2 separate regions of the Homo sapiens genome follow, and region 1 is linked to region 2. Evidence: fine-mapped expression QTL. A gene starts in region 2. The other region holds a variant in brackets. All regions are shown on one strand. Distances are from middle to middle. Region 1 holds the start of LOC124906234 (a long non-coding RNA gene). Region 2 holds the start of SMARCC1 (SWI/SNF related BAF chromatin remodeling complex subunit C1).

What was found.
Region 1: its variant is fine-mapped to the expression of SMARCC1 in lung (TOPMed, PIP 0.94).

Annotation. Positions count from the first base shown.
Region 1 is chr3:47,596,384-47,601,760 of GRCh38, reverse strand. The region is part of intron 26 of SMARCC1 (SWI/SNF related BAF chromatin remodeling complex subunit C1); the gene reads left to right. LOC124906234 (a long non-coding RNA gene) reads right to left here and starts at 1,538. Exons shown (of 3, transcript XR_007095902.1): 1 at 1,478-1,538. The variant A/G (reference allele first, on the strand shown) is at 2,240.
Region 2 is chr3:47,778,580-47,783,956 of GRCh38, reverse strand. SMARCC1 (SWI/SNF related BAF chromatin remodeling complex subunit C1) reads left to right here and starts at 2,064. Exons shown (of 28, transcript NM_003074.4): 1 at 2,064-2,354. The coding sequence starts at 2,160. RefSeq lists silencers at 1,321-1,380, 1,491-1,540, 1,951-2,170, 2,351-2,590 and an enhancer at 1,824-2,118.

The DNA of each region.
Region 1 (5,377 bases), 180 kb after region 2:
ACCACTGCACCACTCCAGCCTGGGCGACAAGAGTGAGACTCCATCTCAAAAAAAAAAAAAAAGAAAAAAAAAGCCGTAGCCCATCACATCAGCCAAGATTTTATTATCTGCGGTGCCTTTGGTCCTACTTACATGCTACTTTCCGGAGTAGCCATGCTACTTTCCGGAGTAGCAGGTTACCCTCACAAAGAGAACAGTGAGGGCCCAGTCTTCAACAAAGAGAGTCTGTCACAGGCATCCCCAGGAAGCTGCTGTGGGGAAGGCACAGTCTCTGAGGAGCCTGGGCTTCCCCTCACTTGGCCCTGATTTTGTTATTTCCATTCTCCAGGAGACTCAGCCAGAGGATGTGCTATAGACAGTTAGAAATGGATTGATGAAATGTGCTCAAGACTGGAAATTCACAGGTTCCCTTTCCTAGATTCACTTTCTTTTCCTACCCTCCTTTCCCAACCCAAAGTATAAAATTAAGGTCCTTTACTAATATTCCATTAAGTGTCATGAGTGTAATGCTTTAGTAAAAGATACAATAAACCTGAGAGAGAATGAGGGATTTTTCTACTAGTTAAACCTAATTTTAGCAAAGCTTTTAATTTTTCAGGCTTCAGATGCCTGCTGTTTAAAAAAAAAAAAGAAAAAAGAAAAGAAAAAAAGCTTGTATGTAGGTCAGACTCCCACCATTCTAAGCTTTTGATACTGCTGTTTTGATGCCATGTCTCTCTCTCTCTCTCTCTCTCTCTCTCTCTCTCTCTCTCTCTCTCTCTCATTTTCTTCCTCTCCCTGTCTGCTGGGAAAAAATACCTGATTTTTTTTTTTTAATGGAAAAGACATACATCCTTTACTTTGTTTGCTAAGGCCTGTTCCTATGCATTTCAGATTTGTGTGGGCCAGATCTCTTAATGTTAGTAAGAATTAATGGAAATGCAGACACTGTTGTTCATTTAAAAGTGGTGAGACCTATATCAGACACCACAAAAACCCATAAAGATGTTTAGACTTCTTAAGGACAAGGGTTGCTTTGTGCGAAATTGATTTTGTCTTCTCCTGAGTCTTCTTAAATTCTACCCCATTTCAGATTTCATCCTTGGAAGTTACCTTTTCTAAGGGGAAAGTTACTCCTTAGAAAGGAAGGTGGGGTAAAGGAAAAGAGAATGGACCTCAGGGTCAGAGAGACCTGGATTTGAATCTCAGCTCAGTCTCTTGTTCATTGTGACTTTGCGCCAAATTACATAGCTTCTCTGAGGCTTAGTTTCCTTATCTCAAAACTAGGCCCTTACCATCATCTTACTAACAACCTGGAGACTTCAGAGAGATAACTGTCAAATCACCTGGCACGGTCAACCCTTACTCAACCTTATTCTTACCTCCTTTCCTGTCTTTTCTCTAAACCCACTGCCCCAGGTACACCAGTGCTGAGTTGCTTAGCATCTGACAGAAGGAACCTCTGAATGGCAAAGGGACATCATTCACTCTTAGGTACCTCTTGCTTTCCTGAGAGATGTTTGTTTTTGCAGGGTGCCATAAGCAGAAGTAAATTGCTTTTCCTCTAGACCTTCATTTTTGCTGCCAAGGAGCCGTTGTCCTCTCATACTCAGAACACCTGTATCCCAGTGGCTTTATGACCTTGTTTGTGACAATAGGATAAAGAATCTTTTTCACAAGGCTTTAGAATTTATAATAAATGAAAAGAAAGGTTTTTTTAGCTGTTGGGCTAACAGCCTTGGAAAACCCTAAAGCTGCCCTATTCCAGCTTGTATTCATAAAGATGTAGGGTAATAGGTAAATGGGCCACTGCCACTGAGCAGATAGCTTTGGAAATAGTACTACTGGGCCTAAGAGCAAGAGCCTGCAGGCATTTCCCAGTGCATGATAGGTAGACATCACTTTGTGGGTGTTTGTCAATCAGCCAGTGATGCTCCTCTTTGCCAGATTATTTCTTGAATAGTTGATTTCTCTGCTGGAACATATATTCTGAATTGCGGGTTCAGAAAGTAATTTCTGTCTGGAGCTGAGCATGGGGCAAATAATGGATCAATCAGTTTGGTGACACCAGGGTTTGCATCACGTCGTCTCTGAGCACCTGTTGGACCCCTCTCCCCCAGACCTTGATTGTCAGGGGTGCACACTGGCTGCAAGCACCATCTCTAGAATCAGAGTACCTGTATCAGATCTGAGCTCCCTCATTTACATGCTTTATGACATTGGGCAAGCTACTTAATCTTTGTGTCCTTCCCTTTCTTCC[A/G]CAGGGATAATAGTGCCTGGTTTATAGTGTTGTTATGGGGATTGAATGAGTTAACATTTATAAAACTCTTAAATATAGTGCCTAAGGCATAGCACATGTTTCCTACGTAGTTTCCTGAGGCTGCTATAATAACTTTTTTGAGGCAGAGTTTGCTTTTGTCGCTCAGGCTGGAGTGCAGTGGTGTGATCTCTGCTCACTCTAACCTCTACCTCCCGGGTTCAAGTGATTCTCTTGCCTCAGCTTCCCAAGTAGCTGGTATTACAGGCATGTGCACTCCTGGCTAATTGTTGTATTATTAGTAGAGACAGGGTTTCACCATGTTGGCTAGGCTGGTCTCAAACTCCTGACCTCAGGTGATCCGCCCTCCTCAGCCCCCCAAAGTGCTGGGATTATAGGTGTGAGCCACTGCGCACAGCCTGTCAGAATAACTTAAAACAAGAGAAATGTATTCTTACTCTCTGGGAAATCAGGTCCAATATCCAGCAAAGCCATGCTCCTTCCAAGGTATATAGGGAAGAATCCTGTTCCTTGTCTCTTCCAACTTCCGGTGGCTTGCAGCATTCCTTGTCTTACGGCCACGTCTCTCTTTGCTCCATCTTTACATCACCTTCTTCTCTCTCTGTCTTTGTCTCTGTGTGTGTGTGTGTGTGTGTGTGTGTCTCTCTCTCTCTTTTTTTTTTTTTTTTTTTTTTTTTTGAGACAGAGTCCCTCTGTAGCCCAGGCTGGAGTGCAGTGGCGTGATCTCAGCTCACTGCATCCTCCACCTTCCAGGTTCAAACTATCTTCTCCTCAGCCTCCCAAGTAGCTGTGACCACAGGCATATACCACCACACACAGCTGATTTTTATATTTTTAGTAGAGACGAGGTTTCACTATGTTGGCCAGGCTGGTCTTGATCTGCTGACCTCAAGTAATCCACCCACCTCAGCCTCCCAAAGTACTGGGATTACAGGCATGAGCCACTGCACTGGGCCACATACATAGCTTTAATCAATAAAATCTCAGGAAACCAAAGCTCAGGGATTGAGAGAGAGAGGAGGAGACCTGTGAAGGGCGGCAATATGTTCTTCCTAACTTGTTTAAGGCCTCTGTCCAGGTCGGACTTGGTGGAAGCGAGCAACCTGTACCTGTTGATAAACATGGGCAGCATTATTTCTCCTAGTATATGGCTTCCCTTTGTCACAACAAGTCCATTAGGAGTGTTCTTTCGTCTGCAGGCTAGAATATTGTACTTTTTAGTTTTAAAAGTAGGCCTCCTGTTTCCAGCAGCAACAAAATCATCTCCTGTTGTCCTTCACGCCACCTAGAATACCATTAGAGAATCATTAGTAGTGATTTAGAGTGTGGAAAACAAAGCATTGCTTTTATTAATGGCCTAGCAGGTGATGTGGGGTAGGAAGAGAACAAAAAAAGGGCTTCCAAAAGGGAGCTGGGACAGTACCACCTTAAAAACAAAGGTGCCTCTTTGGCAGTTTGTGGAGAATCTTAGAATAGTAAGTCTCTGTTTGCCACTGCTCTATTTGAAACTCTGGGAGTTCTATACCTTCCCTTCACCGATACCTCTGTATTTCACTATATGGCTGCCCAGCCTACATCTGTTCCCAAAGCAAAAAGTTCTGTGTCCTCTTCACGTCATCCCATCTTCACACTCCCAGCAGTCAGATACCAAACCCAAATTCATTTTCCATCTCAGCTCCATGCTCGCCCTTCCTTCTTGCTCTGTCTCCAATCCCGAGGATGCCTCTTTTTACAGAACCTGTGGCTGGGCACAATAGCTCACACCCATAGTCCCAGCAACTCAGGAGACTGAGTTAGGAGGATCATTGAGCCTAGGAGTTTGAAACCAGCCTGGGCAACATAGCAAGGCCCCATCTCTATAAAAAATTAGCTGGCGTGGGCCGGGCATGGTGGCTCACGCCTGTAATCCCAGCACTTTGGGAGGCCGAGGCAGGCGGATCATGAGGTCAGGAAATCGAGACCATCCTGGCTAACATGGTGAAACCCCATCTCTACTAAAAATACAAAAAATTAGCCGGGCGTGGTGGCGGGTGCCTGTAGTCCTAGCTACTCGGGAGGCTGCGGCAGGAGAATGGCATGAACCCGGGAGGCGGAGATTGCACCACTGCACTCCAGCCTGGGCAACAGAGTGAGACTCCGTCTCAAAAAATTAAAAAATAAAAAATAAAATAAATAAATAAATTAGCTGACGTGGTGGTGCACACCTGTAATCCTAGCTACTCAGGAAGTTGAGGCGGGGGCATCACTTCAACCCAGGAGTTCACTGCTTTAGTGAGCTATGACCATACCACTGTACTCCAGCCTGGGTGACAGAGCAAGACCTCATCTCTCTCTCTTTTTTTTTTTTTTTTTTGAGACTGAGTCTCGCCCTGTCGCCCAGGCTAGAGTGCAGTGACGCAGTCTCAGCTCACTGCAACTCCTGCCTCAGCCTCCTTAGTAGCTGGGATTACAGGTGCGTGCCACCACGCCTGGCTAATTTTTTTATTTTCATCATGTTGGTCAGGCTGGTCTCAAATGCCTGACCTCGTCATCTGCCTGCCTCGGCCTCCCAAAGTGCCGGGATTACAGGCAGGAGCCACCGCCCCTAGCCAAGACCTCATCTCTTTTAAAAAAATAAAATAAAAAAAAAAAGAAGGAACTTGCAGAGTGCCATCTCCATCTCCTATTCCTTTCTGTCTCATCAGCCTGACATTCAGCCCATACTTCTCTGCAAAGGCACTTTTTCTCTGCTCTAGGCACTAACTCCTCTGCATCCCTTCTTAAAGCTTTCTATCCTAGCTGGGCATGGTGGCATGCACCTGTAACCCCAGCTACACAGGAGGCTGAGGCAGGAGAATCACGTGAGCCCAGGAGGTCTAGTCCAGCCTGGGCAACGTAGCAAGACCCCATCTTTTTTCTTCTTCTTCTTCTTATTTATTTATTTATTTTTTTTTTTTTGAGACGGAGTCTGACTCTGTCACCCAGGCTGGAGTGCAGTGGCATGATCTCGGCTCACTGCAACCTCCGCCTCCCACGTTCAAGCAATTCCCTGCCTCAGCCTCCCGAGTAGCTAGGATTACAGGTGCCCACCATCACACCCAGCTGATTTTTGTATTTTTAGTAGAGATGGGGTTTCACCAT
Region 2 (5,377 bases):
TACAAAATAAATGCCTTGTAATCTTCATAGGTATCAATGTTGTTAAGGTTTAAGGACTAAGGAACTGTTCCATATTGAAGGAGATGAAACTTTATTAAATGCAAAGTGTGATTTTGAACTGGAAACTTTTGCTATAAAGGACTTCATGGTGCAATAGGAAAAACCTGAATGGGGTCTGGGGATGGCATCAGTGTTAATTTCCTGGTATAAATGATTGTATTGTGATTATGTAAGAGAATATATAGACTATACTTGTCTGTAGAAAATACACATTAAACTTTTTGATAGTGATGGGTATTATGTCAGCAACTTACTCTTAGATGATTCAGGAAAAGTTCTTTGTATTATATTTGCAACTTTTCTGTTAAATCTGAGAAAGTTTCAAATTAAAAACTTTTTTTTTCAGACGAGTTTGGCTCTGTCGCCTAGGCTGGAGTGCAGTGGCGTGATCTCAGCTCACTGCGATCTCCACCTCCTCCTGGGTTCAAGCAATTCTCCTGCCTCAGCCTCCCGAGTAGCTGGGATTACAGGCATGCACCACCACACCTGGCCAATTTTTGTAGTTTTAGTAGAGACGGGGTTTCACCATGTTGGCCAGGGTGGTCTGGAACTCCTGACCTCGTGATCAGTCTGCCTTGGCCTCCCAAAGTGTTGGGATTACAGGCGTGAGCTATCTCGCCTGGCCCTCTTGATCACATTCTATTAACTTTTTTATTTAATATATTTTACTGTCCGTGACACAGCCCTCAGGAGATCCTGAAAACATGTACACACCCTCATTTTTAAAAGATCTCAGAAACTTACCAGCAGTTAGTCACGTTCTCACAAGCAATTAGTTACTTGCTTCTCTGCGATCATATAGCATTATGTTCACAACTCCATTATGGCCAGTCATACTTTTTATGTTTCTGAAACAGGGTTTCGCTCTGTCGCCCAAGCTGAAGTGTAGTGAGTGGCGCGATTATAGCTCACTGCAGCCTCCATCTCCCCAGCTCAAGGGATCCTCCCACCTCAGCCCTCCAAGAGGCTAGGACCACAGGCTTGCAACACAACGCTGGCTGATTTTTGTATTTTTTGTAGAGACGGGGATGGGTGTGGTGGTCTAGAGCTCCTGGGCTCAATTGATCCTCCCGCCTCAGCCTCCCAAAGTGCTCCGCACCCGGCCAATATACCTTGTTAATAATTTAAAAATTTTCGGCTTCTATGTGGGCCATTCATTAACTCATCAAGTATTTACTGTACATCTGTTCCTTGTCTCAGGTGTTCAGGATACACCTGTGAACAAGTTAAGATTAGGTTCTCATGTAATTTATGTGGAAGGTAAATGAGAAACTAGAAACGCCGGGTCGTGGTGAGCGCTATGCAGAAAGTGTATGGGTGTGAACAGTTGTTCAAGATTGTTAAGATCTGACAACTACTTTCTGAAGTCCTTTGAAGCAGTGAATCTGAACGCGTCTCGTAAGTGCAAATCAGAAGGGAAGACCTGCTGAGGTCTCGAAAGAGCCAGTGCAAGGGCCCCTGGGGCAGGAATGAGCCGCTGTGGCTGGACCCCTGAGGGAGTGGAAGGTCTGTGAAGCCGAAAAGCCTAGGCGTGGGAGTCCCAGATGGCTGTTCACAAATGCCGCCGGGCCGCTGGGGGTGGAGGGCCTGAGGGAAAGCGGGGCCCGGCGCAGTCCCAGTCCGGGTGCAGGGCCCTCGGCCAGCACTCGATACCCTAGACAGGCTTTCCCTTGGGCATTTCTCGCACCAGGCCTTTTCCCTCCAGCGGAGGCGGGCTATGACACATAACCCACCTGCGGTTGTTGACCGCATAATGATTCGACGTCGGTAGCGAGGGAAGAGCAAGGCTCAAAAACCGGCGCTCACTAGGGCAGAATGCAGCCTACGGAGGATGGCGGAAGAGGCGGCTGAGGCCGCAGGACGTGCTATTCCAAGGCACGGCCGCACGAGTGCTACGCATGCGCGTGCGCTGGCTCGCGTCAGATACAGTGCCAGTTCCCAGATGGGGCGGGGCCGGGCGTCCGCGCCGGAAGAGGGTTGGCTGGGCGGGGCCGGGAAGCGGCAGTGGCGGCTACGCGCGCGGGGGTGCGCGCGGGAACGACCGGGAAACACCGCGAGGGCCGGGGTGGGCCAGGCTGTGGGGACGACGGGCTGCGACGATGGCCGCAGCGGCGGGCGGCGGCGGGCCGGGGACAGCGGTAGGCGCCACGGGCTCGGGGATTGCGGCGGCAGCCGCAGGCCTAGCTGTTTATCGACGGAAGGATGGGGGCCCGGCCACCAAGTTTTGGGAGAGCCCGGAGACGGTGTCCCAGCTGGATTCGGTGCGGGTCTGGCTGGGCAAGCACTACAAGAAGGTGGGTTCGCGCGCCCGTGGGGGCCGGGAGACCACGCGACCGGGGCCGGAGGCGGCAGCTGGCCTCGCGGGCCTCGGGCCGCCCCTCCCCCCCGCACGCCACGAGGGACAACAAAGGCAGGCGCCGGGCCCGCCACGCCCCCGCCGCCCGCTCTGGGCGCCCGCGATCCCGGGGCCTGACTGGGGTTCGGGGCTCTCTCCTCTGAGCCTACGCACCCATGGTGAAAGCCCCTGCTCAGTCTCGTGTGCCAGAGCAGGTCGAGCTCAGCCACTAAGCGAGTGTGACTCTCTCTCTTTTGTCAGCTGCCTTAGGTGTGTGAACAATGATCCCTAAAGACCGAGCAAGCGTGGTAAAAGCAGCTTCAAGTTTTGTTTAGAGCGTATTCAAAGTCTCGAGGGGGTTTGCTACCTGTTGTTGAATTGCTAAACGACTGGGATGATTGTATTCGTTAATTAATAACAGGCAATATGAATTCTAGGATGGATGAGAACTATTAACGACGGTTCTACCTCATCGTGCTTCTGGTTCTGTGTGGCGTGAGAGTTGATGGTCGCTTGTACGTAAAGTGTTCTAAAGGGAGGCCTTCCCCAAGAACCCAGTTTTTATTAGAGCACTTTTCTTGTGTCACCTTTATTTTCTTCGTAGTGTTTACCACATTTTGAAATTATTCATTTACTGATTTCTCCTACCTTTGGAACGGAAGTTCCGCCGAGTCAGTAGTTTTCAAAGTTTTGACTTAATCCTTTGTTTATAACAAATGTTTTTTTTTTTTCCAACTTCCCTTTTGTGTAAATATTCAGGAGGACTCCCTTAAAGGGTGTAATGAAGCAGGTAGCCGAAAAGGCTCCCCAGCCTCTGAAGTTTTCCTATCACCCTCTTTAGTTCTGTACTTTCTCCTATTGAGAATCATAGCACTGAAGCAAGGGCTTTGTTCACTGCAGTGTATCCGGGAACGTGGCTGATACTTATTGCCTTACCCTTAGTGGCTGCTTAGTAAATATTTGTTGAATGAATGAAAACATAAACTAGTTTAGGAACCTATTTTTTTGGCCTCAGCAGCTCAGTGAAGCCTGTCAGTGTTTGGCAGTTATTAGGCATGGGCAGGGATCTTGGGTTCCTTTGGCATTACACGTGGTACATTCAGAAATGACCATTTCTGGCCGGGCGCGGCTTGGAAGGCCGGGCGGGTGGATCACCTGAGGTCAGGAGTTCGAGACTAGCCTGACCAACATGGTGAAACCCCGTCTTTCCAAAAAATACAAAATTAGTCGGGTGTGGCAGCACATGCCTGTAATCCCAGCTACTCGGGAGGCTGAGGCAGGAGAATCTCTTGAACCCAGGAGGCAGAAGCTGCAGTGAGCCGAGATTGCACCATTGCACTCCAGCCTAGGTAATAAAGTAAGACTGTCTCCAAAAAAAAAAAAAAAAAAAAAACAAAAAAAAACCAAAGACCCAGAAATGATCATTTCTTTCTTTCTTGTTTTTGAAGGTCAGCTAGAAAAATTACATTTCTTATCTGAAGTTTGAGGAAGTGAGAGACAGTAATTATATTTTTAGGTGTCTGGACTTTTCCTCCTCTGAAATTACATTTAGACTGTAGATTTTTAGTAATATTGCCCTTTCTTACACAGTGATAAATTGGTCACTTTTTAAATGTAAGTAATAGAGCTTCCAGAAGTGGCTAATGGAATTGAATATGTTATGAAAATATTGGTTAATTCTTCTTTATTACATTCCTTTTAGCCAATGCTTTGGGTCTTAAATTCAGTGAAGCTTTAACAAAGAAAAATAATCTACAGGCATATTCCTTTGAATAATATCAAGGAAGAGAGTAGAAAAAGGCAAATTTCAGTAATTTCTACCTCTCCGCACTGTTCAGTGTGCATCAGTTTGGGATCAACTACAAGAAGCTTTAGACATGGATAATCCTTCGATATTTGTTTGGGTGGGTAGGGAAGTGGCTACAAAGCAGTTTGAGGAATTGCCCAGCAGTATTGAGACCACTAGGCTAATGTTGATTCACTATCCCTGAGACTTTATAGACAAAGTTACCTTTGACTTCTCAGGACTTTGTAAAGCCAGAGTGTATTTCTAGGGTCTACTGAGATTGAGAAACGTATATACCCTAGGCCTGACAGCCAGAATCTTTTCAGTCTCTGGGTGTTAGCGTTGAAGTGGTGAAAATATTATCACAAAGTTCTTTGCTTCTTTTCTACACAGTGCATTTCTATTTGGTGTACGCATTGGTTTTAACTAACCGTTTCTAGTGCATTTAATACTGCATTTTCAGAGCAGACAACAGTTTCAGTCTCAGTAAACATGATTTTGTTAGTGTCATTTTTTATTTATTTTTATTTTACTTTATTTTTTTGAGACAGGGTCTTTCTGTGTTGCCCAGGCTGGAGTACAGTGGCGTGATCATAGCTCACTGCAACCTCAAACTCTTGCATTCAGCTCATGCATTCAGTGAACAACTGAGCATTTACCATGTGCCGGGTACTTAAAGTATAACTCACTTAAAGTCCTCATAGCAGTCCTAAATGATAGATATTATTTACCTTCTTTTTCAAATGGAAGATACCTGAGACTTCATTTAGGAATTTTCTTTTTTTTTTGAGACAGGGTCTTTCTGTGTTGCCCAGGCTGGAGTGCAGTGGTGAGATCATAGCACACTGCAGCCTCAACCTCCTGGGCTCAGGTGATTCTCCCACCTCAGCCTCCTGAGTACCTGGGACTACAGGCACGAACCACCACACCTGGTTAATTTTTTGTATTATCAGTAGAGGCAGGGTTTTGCAGTGTTGCCCAGGCTGGTCTCGAACTCCTGGGCTCTCTGCCTGCCTCAGCCTCCCAAAGTGCAGGGCTTACAAGTGTGAGCCACCACACTTGGCCCACACTGACTCTTACTTGAAATATTTTGAGACTAATAAATTTTTGTTTTCTTAAATAAAATATAATAGACTTTTTTTGATCAAAAGATTAATTGGGCCAGGTGCAGTGGCTTGCGTCCGTAATCCCAGCAC